2 separate regions of the Homo sapiens genome follow, and region 2 is linked to region 1. Evidence: fine-mapped expression QTL. A gene starts in region 1. The other region holds a variant in brackets. All regions are shown on one strand. Distances are between the middles of the regions. Region 1 holds the start of EDDM13 (epididymal protein 13). Region 2 overlaps ZSCAN5A (zinc finger and SCAN domain containing 5A).

The links. PIP is the estimated chance that this variant, and not a neighbour inherited with it, causes the effect.
Region 2: its variant is fine-mapped to the expression of EDDM13 in blood mononuclear cells (TOPMed, PIP above 0.99). The same link has a PIP of 0.9 or more in whole blood.

Annotation. Positions count from the first base shown.
Region 1 is chr19:56,267,745-56,279,504 of GRCh38, forward strand. EDDM13 (epididymal protein 13) reads left to right here and starts at 5,004. Exons shown (of 15, transcript NM_001354658.2): 1 at 5,004-5,175; 2 at 8,348-8,365. The coding sequence starts at 5,091. All of the region lies in intron 2 of ZSCAN5A (zinc finger and SCAN domain containing 5A), which reads right to left. It overlaps LOC124900420, which reads left to right and starts at 5,004. Exons shown (of 5, transcript XM_047439799.1): 1 at 5,004-11,760.
Region 2 is chr19:56,297,103-56,308,862 of GRCh38, forward strand. All of the region lies in intron 2 of ZSCAN5A (zinc finger and SCAN domain containing 5A), which reads right to left. EDDM13 (epididymal protein 13) reads left to right here. Exons shown (of 15, transcript NM_001354658.2): 12 at 403-429; 13 at 4,866-4,993; 14 at 7,691-7,728. LOC124900420 reads left to right here. Exons shown (of 5, transcript XM_047439799.1): 5 at 1-11,760. The coding sequence starts at 9,139. The coding sequence ends at 10,257. Among named protein-coding and RNA genes, the nearest start is that of ZSCAN5A-AS1, 12 kb to the right of the region's middle. The variant G/C (reference allele first, on the strand shown) is at 5,049.

The DNA of each region.
Region 1 (11,760 bases):
TTTTTCATCTATAAAATGACGCTAATAACAGTTCCCATCTCATAGTGTTGTAGGAGTTATTATAGGCAAAGGCTCTTAGAAGAGCATCTGGGATGTAGTCAGTGCTAGAAAAAGTATCGACTGTTGCTATGACACCTCCATTTTTACTCCCTGAGAAACTGAGGTCCAAAGAAAAGAAATCCTTGTCCTAGTGCACACAGCCAGGAGGTGGAGGGAGCTGAGGTTTGATCCCGCACCTCTATGATTTCAGAGCCTGGCTAAATCCGATGACACTTTTCAGGTCCCTTCTGGGAAAAATCCCTGAAACTTCTGACCCATTGCTCCCTTATCTGTTTAGTGGGGGACAGAAGACTCCAAGGGCTCCTCTATCTAGGATAGATGTGAAGGAACTGACTGGAGAGCCAGCCAGAGCCCAGGACATGGGTTGTCTATTCTAGGACCTAGTCAGTGGCTTGGGACTCCTTGGGGGTTGGGAAGCCAGGCTGCCCAGGACACAGAAGCATTGGTGTGGCTGAGCCAGTCATGCCAGCTGCAGCCGAGACCCCTTGTGTGGGCGCTGCCCCTGTGGGTGTAATGGCCCCTGCGGCAGGGACAGAATGCTCATCCCTCCCACCTGCTCAAGCTCTGGGACTGCCCCAGGAACTGTACAGAGGGGTTGAACTATTTCCACTTGTTTCCCTGTAGAAGCCTCAGATGCTGCTGCTGCTGCTGCTGGTTTAATTTTTAAATTTAGTTACTTTTAATACTTTTTAAATTTAGTTACTTTTAATATGCACAGTCCCTATGCTTGTACTGTTTTCTTTGTTTTGTTTTGGTAACATGGGATTTTTAATTGCTATTTTTAGAGCTTTTAACACATTTTTCTACATTTAAAACTTTTTTAATTGAGGTAAAATTCATATGATATAAAATTAACCATTTTAAGTGTACAATTCAGTGGCCTTTAGTGCATTCTCGATGTTGTTCAACCGTCACCCACATCTAGTTTTAAAACACTTTCCTTACCCCTCACCCCATCTCACTAAGCAGCCATTCCTCTTTCCCTCCCCATTCCTAGTCCCCGACAACCACTATCTACTTTCTGTCTCTAAGGATTTACTTGTTCTGGATATTACGTATCAATGGAATCATACACTAGGTAGTCTTTTGTGTCTGGCTGCTTTTACTTTGCATAATATTTTCAAGGTTCACCCATGTTCTAGCATGTATCAGTACTTGATTTCTTTTTACAGTTGAATAATATCCTATTATATGGCTATACCACACTTTACCCATTAATCTATTGATGGACATTCGAATCATTTCCATATTTTGACTCTAGTGAATAGTGTCGCTGTGAACATTCGTGTGTGAATATTTGTGTAATTACCTGTTTTCCGTGCTTTCGGGTACATACCTAGGAGTGGACTTTCAGGGTTATACGGTAGCCCTATATTTAACTTTTTGAGAAACTGCCAAACTATCTTCTACAGGGGCTATACCAATTTACATTTCCACCAGCAATGTATAAGAGCTCCAATTTCTCCACATCCCCTCAATATACTTTAAAACATTCACAATTATATGGCATAATAATATAATAATTAATGATAATAATTGTTGCTATCATTAATAGGAGGAAACCGAGGCTCAGGGATATAGTCAATTGAGCAAGTTTATGCATCTGTGAGGCAGGCAGAATAATTGTCCCTGAAGATACCCACATCTGACTCCTGGAACCTGGGAGTGTGTTACTCTCAGATGTGATAAAAATAAGACTGTTAATCAGCTGACCTTGTGGGGAGATTATCCTGGATTACTGGGGTAGGTCCAATGTAATCACAAAGGATCTTGTAAGTGAAAGAGGGAGGGAAATGGGTAACAGAGGGAGACGGAATGATGAAAACAGAGAATCAGAGCAATGTACGGTGAGAAAGACTTGACCGGCCATCGCTGGCCTGAAAATGGGAGAGGGTTGGAGAGAGATTTGAAGACGCCATGCTGTTGGTTAGGAAGATGAAAGAGGCCGACCAGGAGTCAGGAATGTGGGCAGCCTGTAGAAGCTGCAGAAGGCAAGGAAACAAATTCCTCCTAGAGCCGGCAGAAGGAATGTAGCTTTACCAAGGCTTTTCACTCTATCAACCCATTTCAGACTTCTCAATTCCAGAACTGTATGATAATAAATCTATGTCGTCTTAAGTCACAAATTTTATGGTAATTTGTTATGGTAGCAAGAAGAAACTCAGGCCAGCCGTAGTGTGGTGGGGCAGGGATTGGCATCCACACTGGATTGACTCAATGTCTGTGATTCTAACTGATTGGCTGTCTGTGACTATAACAACCAGGTTTTTTGCCGTCTCCAGGTCCAGCACCACTTCCCTGCTCCACATAGACATGAGTGGATCTCACAAACATCACGCTGGGTGAAAAAAAAAAAAAAGATCCCAGCACTATGGGAGGCCGAGGTGGGTGGATCACGAGGTCAGGAGTTCGAGACCAGCCTGGCCAACATGGTGAAACCCTGTCTCTACTAAAAATACAAAAATTAGCCAGGTGTGGTGGCGCACGCCTGTAATCCCAGCTACTCAGGAGGCTGAGGCAGGAGAATCGTTTGAACCCAGGAGGCGGAGGCTTGCAGTGAGTTGAAATCGTGCCATTGCAATCCAGCCTGGGCGACAGGGTGAGACCCCGTCTCAATAAATAAATAAATAAATACATACATAGCTAGCAAGTTGTGCAAGAAAGATTCAGTGAAACACCATTTAGAATAAATGTAAAAACACACAAAATAATATTACATACGTGTACTGGAGCCAGCTTATGAGGGTCAATTGTTAACGTTTTCAGTTTTCTACATTTAAAACATTTTTAAATTGAGGTAAAATTCCTCATTTTAGCTGCTTGCCTAACATAGCCCAATACTCAAAACTAAATTGTATAAACTTGAACATAAATAAGTTATAATAAAAATAGAGTAATAAGCACTAAAAGCTCATCACTTCCTAGTTGTGGCTCCCCAAACATGGTGGCGGTGGTGGTTGGTGTGGGGTGGGTGGGGCAGGTGCTACTGTGTAATTGATAGGGACCAGAGATGTTGCTAAATATCCCACAAAGCGGAAGACAGCCCCCACCACAAAAACGATCTAGTCCTAAATGTCAGCTGTGCCAATGGTGAGAAATCCTGATCTTCCCTAAAGCATGAGTTCCTCATGAGCAAGGCCAGTATCTGACTCATCTCTGTCCCCAGATCACAGTCTGGCAGAGCAGATAATGCTAAAGAATATTAATGATGTTCTACATCCCAGGCATTTGTTGCATTTAAACCCTAGTGTTATGAGTTAGGGACTGTGATTATATTTGATAAAGCAAAGAAACAGCTGTGCTGGTAATGAGGCTGCTAAGGAAGGATGGAAAATCGAAACGTAGGACTAATCAGAGAAATCCAAATATGCTCCCCCAACCAATCACAATGGCCTCTAATTAACCACTGCCAGCTTCCTTATGCCAACGGCCTCCAACCAGGCACTCTTGAAGCCTTCCCTTTCTTTCACTATAAGCTTTCCCACTACCCTGCCTGCCTTTGAGTCTGTGCCAAACACAAATGGTGTCAGTGGCCTCCCTTATTACAGCAAGCTCTGAATTAATAGCCTTTGCTTGTTTTCATTGGGTGGTCTTTACTTCCGCATAGCACCGGATGTGAAAAGCCTTCCACATGTTTTACGCCTTGTTTCTTCTGCTCATTATAACAAATCCTGTAGTATCACGTTTTCCCGGTGATGAGTTGCCAGGACCATGTGCTCACAAAGGAGGGGAGCTCTGAAATATGGCAAATGGCCAACAAGAACTCTCTCCTCCAGCCTAGTCTGAAGGATCGCTGAGGTATCCCCTAATGTACATGAGATGGTCCAGCTTGTACTAGGGATTGAAACATAGATAGCACCAGAGATGGCGGCAGGAGAGAGTCCCCTGCAAGAGTGGACATCCCTCCACACCTGGAACTCTTTCCTTCCAGGACACTACACACAACCCTCTGTTTCTATCAGGCTTGAAGGAAGTACCATAGAAACCTTCAGAGCTTAGATAGACCAGTGGTCTCTACACTCTGCCTTTATTCCAGGAGTCCAGAGGGATACTGGGTCAAGTTCATATTCCCACTGACAGCTAAAGTTCTTGACTGTCAAAGCAATTTCTAAGAATTACCAGTGGAAACAGTTAGTTCCCTGTGGCTGCTATGAAAAATTATTACAAACTTAATGGCTACAACAGTACAAATTTACTATCATACAGGTGTGATATGATAGTATCACATTAGCCTGGAAATATCATTATCCCAACTTTATAGATCAAGAAAATGAAGCACAGAGTGGTTAAGTAACTTGCTCAGGGTACATAGCTAGTAAGTGCTAGAGGTAAGTATAAACGTAGACATCTTTGGAAAGGAATATACACAAAAATGTAAAAACAATACTTACTTCTGAGTAGAAATACGATAGATGTTGTTTGCTTGCTTTGTTGTTTTTCTGAAATTTACAGTACGTCTAGGACAGGGGTCCACAAACGTTTTCTATAAAGGGCCGGACAGTAAATATTTTAGGCCTTTTGGCCCAGATGGTCTCTGTCACAACTACAAAGCTCAGTCTTGCAGCCTGAAAGCTGCTGTAGACAATACATAGTGAAATGGCATGGCTGTGTTCCAATAACACTTTATTCATGGACACTGAAATTCACATTCTATATAATCTTCATGTCATGAAATATTTTCTTTTGTTTTTTCCCTCCAACCATTAAAAAAGGTAACAATTACTCTTAGCTCATAGGCCCTACAAAAACAGGAGGAGGGCAGGATTTGGCCAGCAGATCATAGGATGACAAGCATCACACTCAGCATGAAACTGTTCTAAAATGTTGCTTTAAGATGAAAAAGCAGATACAGTTCTTTGGTCAGCAGTTGGTGGCGTGGGCACAGGTCTGGAGACCTGCCAGCCTCCAGGCAGGCTAGAGGGCAGGTGTGGGCAGTTAGTTTTGTCCCTGGAGCCTGGGAAGACGGTGGGTGACCAGAGAGTCCTGTCTATCCTAGGAGGAGAACATTCAGCCCAAATCCCAGCCCCATCATGCACAGATCAGAGCCATTTCTGAAAATGTCGCTGCTGATTCTGCTTTTCCTGGGATTGGCAGAAGCCTGTACTCCTCGTGAAGGTAATGCTTCCAGCCATGCCTTGTGTCCTCTATGTATTTTCTTACAACTTGGGAGGCTCTTGTGGGCTGGATTCAGAGAGAAGCTCCTGAAGTCTAACAGACTTCTTCTTGCTTCCCATTTAGACATTCACATTTCCCTTGATGGACACAGTGGGGTGAATGAGTCTAGGTTGCTAGCCCCTGCCCTTGGAGATACACTTGTGTCTGCATCCTGGTTTCTATCACTGATTCTGTGACTTTGGGGAGACACTGCGTCTGCAAACCTTGCTGTCCTCATCTGACCAACGGGGCTCACAAGAATCCCCAGTTCATGGGACTGTTGCATGTCATTGACGAGCTTACGTTGTGCAGTGCCTGGAAGTCAACATTACCATAGTTAGATAATTCTAGTGAGACTCCAGACTTTTGCGACGTAAAGACACCAAAGAGTATATTGGGAAGAGGACTTGGGTCTTGCCATAACTCTGAGTTCCCATTTCCTCATTCGATCCACAAATGTTTATTCCTGGTTCTTTCCACGGGCTTGATGCTGGGAATATAGTGATGAAAATAGTTCTGTCTTCATGGAATTCTCATGCTAAACACACACATTCTAGTGTGGGGATTCGGAGATGGCCTCTCTAGAAAAGTCACATTTGAGGTAAGGAATAGGAGCTGGCCAGCTGAAGAGTTAGGAGAGACTATTCCAGGCAGAGACTTGAATATGCAAAGGTCCTGGGGCAGAAGGCACTGAGTCCCTCCATCAGAGAGAGGCCGGTGTGTCAGGAACGTGGTAGGCAGAAGGAGGGGCATGGTGGTGAGACTGTTACAAGTAAGAAGAGACAGGAGGCAGGAAACAGAACAGACGGGGGCATGTGAGTCACAGGAAAAATGTTGGATGTTATCCTCAGGGAAAAGGAAGCTGTGAAAGGGTTTTCAGCAAAGGAGTGTCATATTTAGGAGCGTGTGTGTGCATGTATGTGTGTTTCTGTGTGTTTAAACAATGTGTCTTGCCCTCAGGAAAGAATGGATTAGGTGGGAATCAGATTAGGGGCAAACACACAAGTTAGAAAACGTTTTGGTCATCAGGGTGAAGATGGGGATAAGTAGAAGGTTACGAGGCACTGAGGAAACAGCTCACAGGATTGAGTGATGGGTCAGATGCTGGTGGTTGGGGATAGAGAAGCATGCAGAAAGGCTCTCTTTATACATACATGTATTTGCAACTGGGGAATTGAGGCTGCCCTTAACTGAGATGAGAAAACTCTGTAGAGGTCGGGCGCGGTGGCTCACACCTGTAATCCCAGCACTTTGGGAAGCCAAGGCAGCTGGATTATTTGAGGTCAGAAGCTCAAGACCAGCCTGGCCAACATGGCGAAACCCCATCTCTACTAAAAATACAAAAATTATCCAGGCATGGTAGTAGGGGCCTGTAATCCCAGCTACTCAGGAAGCTGAGGCAGGAAAATCGCTTGAACTCAGGAGGTGGAGGTTGCAGTGAGCCGAGATCCTGCCATTGCACTCCAGCCTGGGAAACAGAGCAAGACTCTGTTTCAAAAAGAAAAAAAGAAAAAAAAAAAAACTCTGTAGAGGAACACGTTTTTTAAAAAATTTATTTTGAAATTATTTTAGACTTGAGGAAAAGTCACAAAAATTAAGTTTCTGAATATTCTTCACCCAGTTATCTCAGCTGTTAACATCTTACCTAACCATAGCACAATGACTAAAAGCAAGACCCAACACCAGAACAAAACTATTAAAGAAATTACAGACCTCATTCAAATTTTACTAATGTTTCTACTAATAGAAAAACTATTCTATTTGAGGATCCAATCCAGGATCCCACCTTGTATTTTCAATTAAGTTTTTTGTTTTGTTTTGTTTTGTTTTGTTTCAGAAAATCCAGCTCTTGCTCAACCATGTTGCATTTTGTTATCCCATCTCCTTTGGTCTTGTGATTTGTCCTTAGGATGTGTGATTGAACCTCCTCAATCTTTGTCTTTCACGACCCTGAAACATTTGAAGAGCTCTGATCAGTTGTTTTGCAGAATTTCTCTCAATTTGGGTTTGTCTGAAGCTTTCTCATGATTGGATTGAGACTATGCATTTAGGGCAGGAATACCACAGAAGTGGTCTCACACCCTTCCCCGGGAATTATATCAGGGACCACATGATGTTGATGTGTCTTATTACCCATGGTGTAAACTTTAGTCCCTCGGCTAAGGTGGTGTCTGCCAGGTTTCTCCACTGTTAAGTTACTATTTTCCCCCTTTGTAATTAATAAATACGCTGGGGGAGAAATTTTGAGGCTATGCGAATACCCTGTTCTCCTCCAATTTTTGCCCATTAATTTTAGCATCCATCTGTGGATCTTGCTGCAGAAATGATTGCTACAGTGCTTCTCCAATGGTGATTTTCTATTCCCCTTATTCATCTACATATATTCAATGGCCTTTCTCTGTAAGGAAAAGCTGACTTTTCTTCTCCATTTATTTATTCAAGTACTGTATTTATTTATATCAGCGTGAACTCAGGGATATTTATCGTATTGGTTGGGTGCAGTGGCTCAAGCCTTTAATCCCAGCACTTCGGGAGGCCAACGCAAGAGGATCACTTGAGGCCAGGAGTTTGAGACCAGCCTGGGCAACATAGTGAGACTCATCTCTACAAAAAATAGTAAGAATAAATAAAAAGTATTGCATTAACAGATTATTTTTTGATGGATAGGAGTGTGATGACCACAGATTCTTTTTTGAACAGGCTAAGCTTGAAGCACCTGTAAGATGTTTGGGACATCCATAGATAGCAAGTTCTGTGAGAACAGAGTTTGGGGTGTCTAGTGTACTCTTATACCAGAACTTCTCTTCCCAATCAGCCTTGCAAATACCTACAGAGCAGGGGCTGAATCTGATTTATCTGCGTCTCCAACACCAAACATGGGCCAATGCCCAGAGCATGTACCATGTGAATGTTGGTTGGATGGATGATGAACGAATGGACTTATCGATGGATGGATGGGCTGATAGATGGGCCCGAGTAGCTTTATTGATAGCAGTGAGTGGGTCAGCTGATCTCCAGGGACACTTCTATCTCTGGTCTTCTTGGTTATTGCACTGATCTGAGTCTAATGCTAATTTCTCTCTCTGCTCCCTGCTCCCGTTGTGAACTGGCTGGCTGATGCTTTTGTCTCCAGTTGCAACTAAAGAAAAAAGTAAGAACCGTGGAACCCCCAAGTCTGTATTTTCATAGCTACCTCTCCTAAAATTCTTTTCGATCTTGCAACCTCTCTGGCAATTCTGGGGAAGGGTGGCACTTGGATCTGGTGCACAGACCTGCCATGGGGTCTGGACATGACTCAGAAAAGCAAACCTATTGTTTGCTTACAGTGATGCTCACAACTAAAAGAGCAGCCCTCCTTCACTCCTTTGTCTGGGGAAGAGAGGCCTATTCGGAAAATGAAGAGCATTTATCAGGGAAGAGAGACTTCGGGCAGATCTCCATTAGAATAACACCTTGGCTTATGTTTAACACCAGCTGGTGGTTTGCAAACTTCATGGTCTTAGGGCCACTGAACACGCGAAAAAAATTATTAAGGATCTAAAGAGCTCTTTTTTTTTTTTTCCAGTGAGGGTTATTTTTATTTATTTATTTATTTTTGAGACGAGCCTCGCTCTGTCGCCCAGGCTGGAGTGTAGTGGTGCGATCTGGGTTCACTGCAACCTCTGCCTCCTGGGTTCAAGCGATTCTCCTGCCTCAGCCTCCCGAGTAGCTGGGACTACAGGCTGCGCGCCACCATGCCCGGCTAATTTTGTATTTTCAGTATAGACGGGGTTTCACCATGTTGGTCAGGCTGGTCTCGAACTCCTGACCTCAGGTGATCCGCCCACCTCGGCCTCCCAAAGTGCTGGGATTACAGGTGTGAGCCACTGTGCCCGGCCAAAGGTTATCTTTATTGATATTTACCTTATTGTAAATTCAAGGATTTTTAACTTAAAAATATTTATATTTACAAATATTATAAATATTTACAAATACAAATACTTATATTTACAAAAACTATTTCTATTTACAAATAAGCACATAAAAAGATGCTCAACCTCATTAGCCATCAGAAAAATGGAAGCCAAAGCCACAGTGAGGTATCACTTCACACTAACTAACGTGGAGAAATCAGAACCCTCATATGCTGCTGGTGGGAATGTGAAATGATACAGCTGCTTTGGAAAACAGTCTGGCTGTTCCTCAAAATGTTAAACACTGAGTTACTCAGCAATTCCGCTCTAGGTATGTGCCCAAGATAAATGAAACGTAAGTCCACACAAAAACCCATGCACAAATGTTCACAGCAGCACTATTCCTAAGAGCTAGCAAGTGAAGGTAATCCTAGCATGCATCCATTAATGAATGGAGAAACAGAGTGTGGTCTATGCATACAATGGAATATTATTCACCCATAAAAAGAAACAAAGTTCTGATGCATTCAACATCGTGTGTGAGCCTTGAAAACATTATTCTCAGTGAAAGATGCCAGTGATAAAAGATCACATATTACCTGATTCCGTTTACCGTATATGAAATATTCAGGATAGGCAAATCCATAGAGACACAATGGACATTAGTGATTTCCAGGGGGTGAGGGGTGGGGGAATTTAGAGACAATGACTAAGGGGTTCAGGGTTTATTTTGGGGTGATTAAAGCCTCTAAAACTGGTGTAGTGATGGTCGTACAAGTCTGAGTATCCTACAAACCACTGAAATGGGTGAATTGCATGGTATGTGAATTATATCTCAGTAAAGCTATTATTCAAATATCTATTACTGCATTAAAAAAATAAGGATAATAGAGACTCAGAAGGAAGGAGGGTGGCAGGGAGGTGAGGGATGAAAACTACCTTTTGGGTACAATGTACATTACAAAGATGCTGGTGCACTAAAATCCTAGACTTCACCACTGCACAATTCATCCATGTCACCAAAAACCACTTGTACCCCTAAAGCTACTGAAATTAAAAATATTTGAAAAATAAGGATAATAAATATACATACTGACATAAATAAAATGTTTTAGTGAAATGGCTGTTTCCAAACCAAAAAAGTTTAGTAAGAAAGGTATTATTTTACATTTTTGCAAATCTCTTTGATGTCTAGTTTAATAGAAAACAGCTGAATTCTCATTTCTGCTTCAGTCTGTCACAATGTGCTATTTTTTTTTTTTTTAGCTTTATGTGTTTGTTTATTTTGGAGACGTAGTCTTGCTCTGTCGCCCAGGCTGGAATACAGTGGCACGGTCTCGGCTCGCCATGACATCTGCCTCCTGGGTTCAAGCAATTATCTTGCCTCAGCATCCGAAGTAGCCTCCCAAGTAGCTGGGACTATAGGTGCATGCCACCATGCCTGGCTAATTTTTGTATATTTAGGAGAGACAAGGTTTCACCATGTTGGCCAGGCTGGTTTTGAACTCCTGACCTCAAGTGATCTGCCCACCTCGGTCTCCCAAAGTGCTGGGATTACAGGCGTGAGCCGCCCCGCCCAGCCACAATGTGCTATTTTGGTTGAAGCAAATGAAAATCTAATCTCACACAGATAAGGAGTTGGAAAAGGGAAGATCATGCAGACCCGTTTTAGGCAGAGTTCTCCAGAGAGACAGAACCATGAAGATATACATATAGATACATATATAGATAAAGATATTGATAGAGATATTTGAGAACAAATTTCTTAGGGGAATTAGCTCACTCAGTTGTGGGGTCTGCAAGCTGCAGAACCAGGAGGGCCAGTAGTGTGGCTCAGTCCAAGTCTGAAGGCCTCAGAACCAAGGAAGCTGATGGATGGTCTAACTAACTCTCAGTCTGAGGCCAATGGCCTGGGAGCTCAGGGAGCTGTTGGTTCAAGTCCTAGAATCCCAAAAGCTGGAGTACCTGGAGTTCTGACATCCAAAGCCAGGAGAAGGGCATCCCAGCTGCAGAAGGGAGAGCAAGAATTGACCCTTACTCCACCTCTTGGCTTCAGCTGGGCCTCCATCCAACTGGATGGTGCTCACCCACCGTGAGGGTGGATCTTCCCTACCTAGTCTTCCAACTCACACCCCAATATCCTCCAGAAACACCTTCACAGACACACCTGGGGCAGCCCAAACATTCTAATCAAATGCCAAACCACTCAGGCTTCCCTTTCAGCAGAAGACGGATGGACTCAGTGCCTACTGAAGCATTGAGAATAAACGTCTTACTGCTATATGGGTGCCTTAGTCAAGCTGACACCCCAAATCAACCATCACATCCCCTGAAAGGATCTCAGGGACCACCTCCCACCCCCACCAAGTAGTCTTTGGATGATACTTCGAGAATTTCTGCTCCAAGTCACATGGAAGGGAAAAAGATCTCTTTTTTTTCCACCCCTACTAGACTGCAAGACTGTAAGTTCCTAGAGGGCAGGGACTGTACTTTACTCAATCTGTTTATTCCTATAGCCTAGCAAAATTCCTAGCGCTCAGTAGGACTAAATAAATGGAAAGAGCCTTGCAAAATGGAAAGGACTGTGAGAACATAATTTAATGCTATTATTTCAGGTTGAAAGGAGATAAAAGGATCCAATATTAATTAAGCA
Region 2 (11,760 bases), 29 kb after region 1:
ACATGACATGTGAGCAAAGGCTTGAAGAAGAAGGGCAGGTGAGCCAGAGATAACTGGGGGAAAGGCATTCCAGGAAGAGAGAACAGTATATGCAAAGGCCCTGAGGCAGCTGAGTCCCTGGGATCCAGGGACACAGGGAGACTAACTTTATTCTCTTCTCTCCTCATTCGAGGCACCTGGAAGCACTATTTAGAGTTTGGTCTCCACCCACTTCATAATTCACCTGATGGTTTCTTTTCTTTTCCTTTCTTTTCTCCTCCTCTTCCTCTTCCTCCCTCCCTCTCTCCCTCCCTTTCTTCCTTTCCTCTTCCTCTTCCTCCCTCCCTCTCTCCCTCCCTTTCTTCCTTTCCTCTTCCTCCTTCTCTTCCTGCTTCTTTTTCTCCTCCATCTCTTCATTTTTAGAAGAAACAAGTGGCTGCAAGGAGGAAGGTAAGTGCTTGGGGTCGTACCATTCCTCATCTATAAGACAGTGTGTCCCTTCTGTCTGGGCTATGATAAAGCCTTAGAAGAGAAGATTTCAGGTAATCAAGGCCCTGCAGGGGCTTTGGTACCTGAGAGGCTGCCTTCCTGAAGGGCATCCAAAGTCTGCAAGCCACTGCCCCTTTCACACTGCTCATGGGCATCGAGGAGACCCAACATACTGAGATGTGAGTGGGAGACATTTCTATCCCAGCTGCTGCTTCTGTGGACTGTGAGTCCTCTCTTCCCGACATGGAAATTACCAAGCTAAGTCCTGGGTGATAGGACTGAGGGCCGGAAAACCAGAAAATAGCAGCAAGCCACCAAGTGATCCAGATGGTGGAGATGAGCGTTTTAAAGTAGGCAGAGCCGGGCATGGTGGCAGCACCTGTGGTCCCAGCTACCCGGGAGGCTGAGGCAGGAGGATTATTTGAGCTGGGGAGGTGGAGGCTGCAGTGAGCCGTGATTGTGCCACCGCATCCGGCCTGGGTAACTGAGCAAGTCTCAAAAAAAAAAAAAAAAGCCAGAACAACACTAATGGTTGGTTCTTTTGAAAAGCGTAATACAAATTTAATCCTCTAGCATTACTGACAAGAAAAAATAGAGGAGAAACAAACTGCCAATATTTGGAAGGAAGAAGAGAGTATCATAGCAGATCTTGCAGGTAACAAAATAACAATAAGGTGATCATTGGAGAAACTTTATGCCAATAAAATTGAAAGTTTAGATAAAACGGACAAAATCCCAAAAAAACACAAATTACCAAAAACAAATGAAATGATATAAAAAATCTGGGCTGGGCGCGGTGGCTCACATCTGTAATCCCAGCATTCTGGGAGGCCGAGGCAGGCGGATCACAAGGTCAGGAGATTGAGACCATCCCACCCAACATGATGAAACCCCGTCTGGTGAAACCCCGTCTCTACTAAAAATACAAAAAAATTAGCCAGGCGTGGTGGCGGGTGCCTGTAGTCCCAGCTACTCGGGAGGCTGAGGCAGGAGAATCACTTGAACCTGGGAGGCGGAAGCTGCAGTGAGCTGAGATCGTGCCACTGTACTCCAGACTGGCAACAGAGCAAGACTCCATCTCAAAAAAAAAAAAAAAATCTGAATAATCCTCTATCTATTAAAGAAATGCCACCTGTAATTAAATAGCCTTACCACACACAAAAAAGTCTTTCAGGATCAAGTTAGCTTTAATAGTGAATTAAAAGGAAGAAATCACATTGATCTTACAGGAAATCTTCCAGAAAATTAAAAACAGTCATTTCCCAACTCGGTTTTAGGACAGAATAACCTTGATAAAAGATCTGACAAATACGACAAAGGAAAATTTCAGGCCAATCTTCCTCATAAATATAGATGGAAAATCCTAGACTAAATATTAGCAAGTGCAATTTGGCAATACATGTTAAACAATCATGACTAAATTCACTTTATTCCAGCAATGCGACAATGGTTTAATAGGTAAAAACAAATATATGGTATTCCCACCTTATTAACATAAAAGAAAACAAGCACATTATCATTTCAGTAGATACAGAAAAAGAATATGGTAAGATTTTACAGCTTACATTATTTTTTTTTTGAGACACGGTCTAGCTTTGTTGCCCAGGCTGGAGTGCAGTGGTATGATCACGGCTCACCACAGCCCTAAACTCCTAGGCTCAAGTGATCCTCCCCTCTACAGCCTCTGAGTAGCTGGGACCACAGGCACGAGACACCACACCCAGCTAATTTATTAAATTTTTTGTAGAGTTTGGGTCTCCCTATGTTGCCCAGGCTGGTCTCAAATTCCTGGGCCCAAGTGAGCCTCCCGCCTCAGATTCCCAAAGTGCTGGAATTACAGACATAAGCCACCATGCCCAGCCTTGTTCATGATTAAAAAAAAAAAAAATCTCAGCTAGCTAGGAGTAGAGAGAACAGCTTAATATAATAAGGAATAGCCACCAAAAACTTACAAAGAACAAGCTGTTTAAGGTAAAACACAGTTGTCCCTCAGTATCCTCAGGGGTTGGGTCCAGGACCTCCCCGCAGATAGCAAAATTCCTTGATGTTCAAGTCCGTGATATAAATAGCATAATGCTTGCATTTAACCTATGAACAGCCTCCTGCACACTTTAAATCATCTCTAGATTACTTATAATACAATGTAAATGCTCCTTAGTTATTGTACTGTTATATTTTTGTATTGTTTTTATTGTTGTATTGCTATTTTTATTGGGATTTTAAAAAGTATTTTTGACCAGTTTTTGGCTGGGTCCTCAGATGCAGAGTCCAGCGACACAGAGGGCTGAGGGTGTAGAACATGTTCCCTCTGAGATCACAGATGAGACGTTCTTGCTATCACCACTTGCATTTCACATTGGACTGAACGTTCTATCCAGTGCAAATCCTAGCCAGGCAAGAGAAAGGTAATAATAGGCAAAAGGATTGTGAAGAAAGAAAGATGAGCCTCATTTTTTATAGATGTGATTGTGTACCTTTGATTGGGAGGGTATATCTGAGAGGCTTGGGATATGCTGGTGTTGGTGAAATATAATTAAAAACAAAATATCCTCCAAACCCAGAGCTCTTCTCCACCCAGGTAGAAGAGAAAGAAAATAGTTTTATTAATGGGTAAGCATTAAACCAGAACATGATATGCGAAGAGACTGCAAAGACAGAAAAAAAAAATTTCACCCTTTTATATAGCCAAGCAGATACAACTTATTACATACCTGCTCTCAAGATAAACAACAGCTAGTCCTCAAGTTAAAGAACTTGACAGCTCTATTTGCTGTACATGGTTCACCGTAAATTCACTTGGTTATTGGGATAGCCAACTGTGTTTGTTAATTGGCTTAATCCAAGGGAAAAATAAACTTCTAGTATCTTTATCACAGGAGGTAGATTTGCTACTTGGGGTGAGGTGCCCACCAAAGTTAGGCTCCATCCCCTCCCAACAAGAAGCTGGGGAAGATGTTTCGAGGTCCTTGAAAACACCCTCCTGGGTCATAATGCTGGCCGCAGGCTTACTTAGCTTTGAAAAAGATTAGTGTAAACGTTGAAGAGAGAGAGACTTGCAATGGCAAAATTTTCTAAAGTAAATGCTCTAAGCAAAGGGGACAAGGAGTAATCGCTTCCTGAATTTTCAACAGGGAGAATTCATTTTTTTTCGTTTTCGATTTGCATTTGCCTGTACACTGGTAATGTTTTATTTTTTGATTGGAAACCTGTTTAGACAGACAGGTTTACGTGTAAAAAAAAAATGAGATTTTCTGAATGTAATACTTTTAAAATAAAAAGACAAGGGAAAAATGTTACACAGGCGAAAGAAACACTCTTGCACCTCATGAGGTTTGACATAAGAAAGCGACACGGTCGGATCTGGTGCTAGAAAGATCCTGCTGGCACTCATGTGGGAGATGGATGAGAAAGAGAAAGGATGGCGTAGTGGGCAGAGGCAGCCATCAAGAGCAGAGCCTGAAGCCTGGGGATGGGGGAGAGGTGGTGGTTTTGTTACCAGAAAGGGGTCCCGATCAAGACCCCCAGAGAGGGTTCTTGAATCTCGTGCAAGAAAGAATTTGAGGCAAGTCCATAAAGTGAAAGCAAGTTTATTAAGAAAGTAAAGGAATAAAAGACTGGCTACTCCATAGGCAGAGCAGCAGCAAGGACTGCTGGACTGAGTCTCCTTATAGTTATTTCCTGAATATATGATAAACAAGGGGTGGATTATTTATGAGTTTTCCAGGGAAGGAGTGGAGATTTCCTGGAGCTGAGGGTGCCTCCCCTTTTTAGGCCAGTAGGGGAACTTCCTGAAGTTGCCATGCCATCTGTGAACTGTCATGGTACTGGTGGGCGTGTCTCTTAGCCTGCTAATGCATTATAATTAGTATATAATGAGCAGTGAGGACCACCAGAGGTCACTTGAATCGCTATCTTGGTTTCGGTGGGTTTTGGCAGCTTCTTTACCGCAACCTGTTTTATCAGCAGGGTCTTTGCGACTTGTATCTTGTGCCAACCTCCTATTGTCATCCTGTGACTAAGAATGCCTTAACCTACTGGGAATGTAGCCCAGTAGGGCTCAGCCTCATTTTACCCAGCCCCTATTCAAGACGGAGTCACTCTGGTTCAAACCCCTCTGACAGTTTGGTGAGAAATCTGGGCAAGACAGGGTCAGATTTGGTGATGTCTTGGATGTGAGGTGGGAGAGCCAAAAGGCATTCCTGACTGTTTGTCTGGAGTATGGTGGTAACCAAGAAGGGGGAAGCTGGCAGTGATGGTGGGTGTGGACCAAAATTTCAATTCAGGAGGCAGGCAGAGATGTGAGTTTGGAGATCAGAATGGAGAGACAGCAGTGACAGGAAGCTCTAAGGCAGGAAGGGAAGGCCATCAGCATCAATCATCTCCACGGTTCTCTCCAGTTAAACCCTTCTCAGGCACCACCCCATCCAGGAAACCACTCCCCAAGAGGAAGAACACGTGGAACTTCCTGAAATGCGCCTACATGGTGATGACCTACCTCTTCGTATCCTACAACAAAGGGGACTGGGTAAGAAGAAGGCAGCACGGAGGGGAGGAGTGTGAGGAGAGGAAGGAAAGAGGAG[G/C]GAAGTGGGGGCACAGAGGAAGCGAAGGAGGGTGCCTCAGAGGTGCCAAGCAGGAAGTGGTGGGAGAGCCCTTCTGTAAAACACTCTCTTCTTCCCACTCTCCCACCCGCCTCCATCTCTCATTTCATTCTTCCTTCCTCTCTCCTTCTTCCCTCTTTTCTCCCTCCCTCCCTCCCCTTCCTCCTTCCCTTTCCTCTTCCTTTTTTCTTCCCTCCCTTACTTCCTCCTTCTCTCTCCTCCCTCCCTATTCTTTCCTCCTCCCTTCATCCCTCCCTTTCTCCCTTCCTTCCTTTCTTCCTCTCTCCGTCTGCTTCCTCCCTCCCTTCTTCCTTCCCATCCTTCTTCCCTCTCTGCCCTTCTTTCCTTCCTCCCTCCCTCCCTCTTCTTCCTCCCCGTTCCTCCCTCCCTCCCCCCTTCCTTTTCTTCCTCCCCCTTTTCTTCCTCTCCCTCTTCTTCCTCTCCCTCTTCCTCCCTCCCTCCTCCTCCCTTCCTTTTCTTCCCCCCCTCCCTGTTCTTTCCTTCCTCCTTCCCTCCTTCTCTCTCCTTCCTTCTCTTTCCTTCTTCCCTCCCTCCCACCTCTAGACTGGGATAAAACTTCTCCCTTCTGCACTAACACAGCCCCAGGGGCTCCTTTGAAATACTGTCACTCATTCTGCCTCTCTCTCTGCCGCTGTCTCTTGTTCTTTCTAAGGGACGTTCATAAGGACCAAGCCTGTTGCTGGTTGCTGGGGACTCTGATGGTTGAGCTACCTTCAAGAAGGTCCTAATTCTGTAAGGGAGGCAGACATCCACAGAGAGAACCAGATCACCGAGTGGTAGCACTTCATGAGCAGGTGCTAGTGCAGGAGGCAGTGGCGCTTATCTCAGCCTAGGGGAAGTGTGGGCTCATGGAAGCCTTTCTGCAGGAGGTGACACCTCTGCTGTGGGTTAAGGACAGAATGGAATTAGCCAATTGAGGAGGGGAAGCAGGGGAAGCATTCCAGAGAAACACCATGTGCGAGACTCAGAGAGGTGAAAATAAGGCAGGGTGCAAGAAACTACAAGCCAGGCCGGGCACGGTGGCTCACGCTTGTCATCGCAGCACTGTGGGAGGCTGAGGCGGCTGGATCACGAGGTCAGGAGTTCAAGACCAGCCTGGTCAACATGGTGAAACCCCGTCTCTACTAAAAATACAAAAAATAGCCGGGCATGGTGGCGCATGCCTGTAATCCCAGCTGCTCGGGAGGCTGAGGCAGGAGAATCACTTGAACCTGGGAAGCAGAGGTTGCAGTGAGCCAAGATCACACCAGCCTGGGTGACAGAGTGAGACTCTGTCTCAAAAAATTAAAGTAAATAGAAAAAAAAAGAAGGAAAGGAAGGAAAGGAGGGAGGGAGGGAGGGAGGCAAGACGGAAGGGAAGGAGGGATGGAAGGAAGGACAAGTCATCCTTCATTCATTGATTCAGTCAGTCTTCAAATATTCACGTGTGTAGAGGACCCATCCTAGATGCTGGGGACTCAGAGAAGAACGGAACCCATAAGGTCCTTGAGTCCCCAGGGCTCCCATGTTTGGGATAGCAGGAGGACTGCAGAGAAACAAGCAGCCAGCTCCAAAAAACATGAACTAAATCAGGGTGATATCACAGAGTGAGCAGCCATGGCCACGGGCAGCCTTCCCCGGGCAGGTAACGTCTGGACATAAGAGATGAGACAGTGGAAGGATCTTGCCTTCAGAGCAGCTTGGGGGCAACCACTGCAAGCAAAGCAGGCATGCACAGCAGACCCTGAGGCAGGAACACACTGAGTACCTTCGAGGAACCAAAGGAACATCTATGTGACCTGAGAGGGGCAGGGGGGTCCAGGTCATGTAAGGTTCTCATAGACCACGAGAAGGAAGCTTGTGTTCTAAGCTAGTGGACAGCCGCCAGCAAGATCCCTTCTGAGTTATCAAAGGATCCTTCTCAATGCTGCCTGTGGAGAGTGGATCGGAATCAGGGCGAGAGTGGGAGCAGACAGACTGAGAGGAGGAGACACACTGAGAGGAGGCCCGACCAGCCAGCGCAGGGGACCTGGCGGTGCTCATGGAGATGAGAGCCGTGCAGCAGTTCTAAAGGAACTGCTTATGCGCTGGGTGTGAGGAATAAGGAAAATGGAGAGACCAGGGAGATGAGCCTGAGACAGTGACTTCAGTTATGCTAGTGGTTCTGAAACGGGGGTGACGTTGCCACCCAGGAGACACTCAGCAGTGTCTGGACCACAGGATTGGTTGTGACAGCTGGAGGAGGGAGCTCGACTGGCATCCAGTGGGCAGAGGCCAGGGAGGCCACTCAACCTGCCATACGGCCCAGGACAACACGCCACGACAAAAATAACCCAGGTCAAAACGTCAGGAACCTGAGGCTGAGAAACCCCAGCTTAGGGGATTGTGCTGCTTATGGGGATGAGGAGAACTGGCTGGAAGATGGGGAAGAAGGTGGGAGTGGTGAGAGGCGGGCTGAATAGAGAAGCAAGACCAGAAGATGTTACAACCAGAGGGAAAGAGCAGAGGGGGAGGACGGGAAAGAAGCGAGAGGGGGATGGGGAGAAAGGGAGGTAAGGAAGGAATTCACTCGCCTCACCCCAACTGTTTCTTTCTCTGTTCCCAGTTCACTTTTTCCTCCCAAGTGTTACTGCCACTACTGTAACTTGGAACTGGACATCAGGTATGCTATGGCAGGGAAGTGGGCTTTTCCCACCGCTGGGGTGGGGTTAGGGGAGGTTCATCCCAACTGCCTGGCATTTGAGGTAAGGAACACAGGTGGATTTGGAAGCTGCAATCATAGAAACCCAGAATTCCATGAGAAGTCCCAAGTTCGTCACCCTTACTTGCAAGCCACTGCCTGACAGGGGCAAGGAAACACATTGTAAATGACAGGGATGTGCCGGGCAGGAGGAACTCCTTTATAAATTCACTCTATAATTTTTTCACAAGTCTTAGGACTTGTGGCCCAACACACACGACATAAAATTAACCATTAGTGACATTCAGTACACTCAAAATATTGTGTGGCCATCACCACTAATCTGTTTCCAGAATCTTCTCATCATCCTAAAAGGGAACTCTGTACCAAGACATCGTCTCTTCCCCCTGTTCCTGGCAACCACTAGTCTACTCTCTGTCTCTGAGAACTCACCTACTCTGGTCATTTCATACACATGGAATCATACACTACGTGGCCCTTTGCATCTGGGTTTATTCATTTGGCATAATATTTCCAAGGTTCATCATGGTATACCTTGTATCAGGACTGTATTCGTTTCTGCTGGATAACACTCCACGGCATGGACATAGCACACTTTGTTTATCCATCATCAGGTAAAGTGCACTGGGTTGCTCCCACCTTTTGACTGTTGTGAGTCGTGGTGCTATGAACAAGTTATGTTAGAATATCTGTTTTAAAATCTTTTGGGGTACAAACTAGGAGTGGAATTGCTAGGTCATATGATAATTCTGTGTTTATAACGACCCACTGATGCATCCTGGATGCAGTAGTGAACGGGGCAGACAAGATTCCTGAGCTCACAAGAAAACAATTAGATGATTACAGGTGATACTTAGAGCTAGAGGAAAAGCTGAGGATATGATGAAAAAGAGAACTAAAGAACCTTGCCCTGGATAGTTGGGTGATGAAGGAAAGCCTCTTTAGGAAAGTGACAATGAATCAAAGGCCTGTAGAATGAGGGGTTGTCAGATACACAGAAAACAAGTGAAAGAGCCTCCAGGTGAAGGAACTGGCTTGTACGAAGGCCCTGGGGTGGAAAGTGGCCTAGATGTGCCTGGAGTCAGAAAGAAAAATGGGGGCAGGAGAAGGGGGAGGGAGTGGGAGGGCACTATGGGAGGAGTGTGGGTGACATGCTCAGCAGACCACCTCAGACCTGGAAGATTAGAGCAAGCATTTTAGACCCAACCTTCAGAGCCATGGGAAGCCACGGAAAGGCTGTCAGTGAGAAAGAGACACGTCCCAGTGACATGAAGTGTAGAGGCCAGTTAAGAGGCTACTCAGTTTCCACGAGATGACGGTAGCCTGGTCAAGGCTAGGGTCCAGGGTACGGAGAGAAAGTACGAAAGACAGATGGGAGGTTTCTCTTCCCTCGATAGCTGCAAAGAGGGTCCCCCTGGCCTCTCCCGCATCGCCAGAGAAAGTACTAAGGACAGATGGGAGATTTCTCTTCCCTTGATAGCTACAAAGAGGCTCCTCCCTGGCCTCTCCCACGTCGCCAGAGAAAGTACTAAGGACAGATGGGAGACTTCTCTTCCCTCGGTATCTGCAAAGAGGGTCCCCCCCGGCCTCTCCCCTGTTGCCAGAGAAAGTACTAAGGACAGATGGGAGATTTCTCTTCCCTTGATAGCTACAAAGAGGCTCCTCCCTGGCTTCTCCCACGTCGCCAGAGAAAGTACTAAGGACAGATGGGAGATTTCTCTTCCCTTGATAGCTACAAAGAGGCTCCTCCCTGGCCTCTCCCACGTCGCCAGAGAAAGTACTAAGGACAGATGGGAGACTTCTCTTCCCTCGGTATCTGCAAAGAGGGTCCCCCCCGGCCTCTCCCCTGTTGCCAGAGAAAGTACTAAGGACAGATGGGAGATTTCTCTTCCCTTGATAGCTACAAAGAGGCTCCTCCCTGGCTTCTCCCACGTCGCCAGAGAAAGTACTAAGGACAGATGGGAGATTTCTCTTCCCTTGATAGCTACAAAGAGGCTCCTCCCTGGCCTCTCCCACGTCGCCAGAGAAAGTACTAAGGACAGATGGGAGACTTCTCTTCCCTTGATAGCTACAAAGAGGCTCCTCCCTGGCCTCTCCCACGTCGCCAGAGAAAGTACTAAGGACAGATGGGAGACTTCTCTTCCCTCGGTATCTGCAAAGAGGGTCCCCCCCGGCCTCTCCCCTGTTGCCAGAGAAAGTACTAAGGACAGATGGGAGATTTCTCTTCCCTTGATAGCTACAAAGAGGCTCCTCCCTGGCCTCTCCCACGTCGCCAGAGAAAGTACTAAGGACAGATGGGAGATTTCTCTTCCCTTGATAGCTACAAAGAGGCTCCTCCCTGGCCTCTCCCACGTCGCCTGCCTTTCATCCTCTCCCTGGCATCCCCAGTGCCCTTTTTACATTAAAAAATGTCAACTCGATCATACGATATACCCCCACCCCCTGCTGCAGTCCTGCTTAAATCCACCAGTGGAAACTCACCAACTATGATGAGTGTCTTTCAAACTTTAAAAGAAAGAAAATCCAAAACACTTTTCTACTGAAATCTTACATGGAATCCCAATATATAAAAAATTCTAAGTTGCTTTTCATTACCAGAGGTACTTTTCCTAAGGTTAACTGTGTGACATTTACTTATTATGAAGTGAGGTGATGAGATTTGCAAGCACAGGGTACAGAAGGCCTCTGCTGTCTTACGTTACTCTCTTTTACCCCGTATCTTGCAGTGTTTCCTTTTAATTGTTCATACGGAGAAAAATCTGAGCCCACAGAGATAAGTCACTGCAAATGCCTAATAGTTTGCCTTGTGAAGTGTACATGCCCTTCAGGTAATACAATTTTTTCCCCAAGGTCTGTATGTAAAACATGCAACAGGTTGGTGTGGCTCTCCAGTGAATAAAAATTTCAGTCCATGTGCTATATTTTGGGTACACACCTATTTTAAAAAATAGTTTAATTTTTGAAATGAAAATCAAAGCAAACCTTTGTGGAATTCCTAAAAGATCCCAAGTTTTCAGGGAACCTGGCAGGAAGCCTCTGCCCCATTGATCAAGTTCAGGTCTCTGGCATGGTACCCAAGGGTTCTCAGGCTCCAAGCTCCTCCTGCTTCTCTAAACTTTTCTCCACTTCTCTTGATCCCCCCACCCACATTCCATCCCCTGTCCATATTAAACCTTTTTTTTTGAGACAGGGTCTCGCTCTGTCGCCAGGCTGGAGCGCAGTGGCGCAATCTTGGCTCACTGCAACCTCCGCCTCCCGGGTTCAAGCAATTCTCCTGCCTCAGCCTCCCAAGTAGCTGGGACTACAGGCGAGTGCCACCACGCCCAGCTAAGTTTTGTACTTTTAGTAGAGACGGGGTTTCACCATGTTGGCCAGGATGGTCTCGATCTCTTGACCTTGTGATCCGCCCGCCTCGGCCTCCCAAAGTGCTGGGATTACAGGCGTGAGCGGTGGCTCCCAGTCTTTTTTTTTTGAGATGGAGGCTCACTCTGTCACCCAGGCTGGAGAACAGTGGCCCAATCTCAGCTCACTGCAACCTCTGCCTCCCAGGTTCAAACGATTCTCCTGCCTCAGACTCCCAAGTAGCTGGGATTACAGGCATGCACCACCACACCTGGCTAATTTTTGTATTTTTAGTAGAGATGAAGTTTCACCATGTTGTCCAGGCTGGTCTCGAACTCCTGACCTCAGGTGACCCACCCACCTCGGCCTCCCAAAGTGCTGGGATTACAGGCATGAGCCACCACGCCCCCCCATATTAAATCATTTCTGATTCCCCCCAAAACATCACATTTTTTTTCCCGCTCCATTATGCCATTGCACACATTGATTCCTTGATCTCTGTCTACCTAGAAAAGTCCTCCTCAGTCCTCAAGATTCACCTAAGCAATGCTTTGGTTCAGGAACCAACAGCAATCCTTCAGATTCCACTGGGGAGGATGCTGAAGGAAATGAATGGTGTTGAACGGTTTCTCAGGCTCTCTTCAACCATAC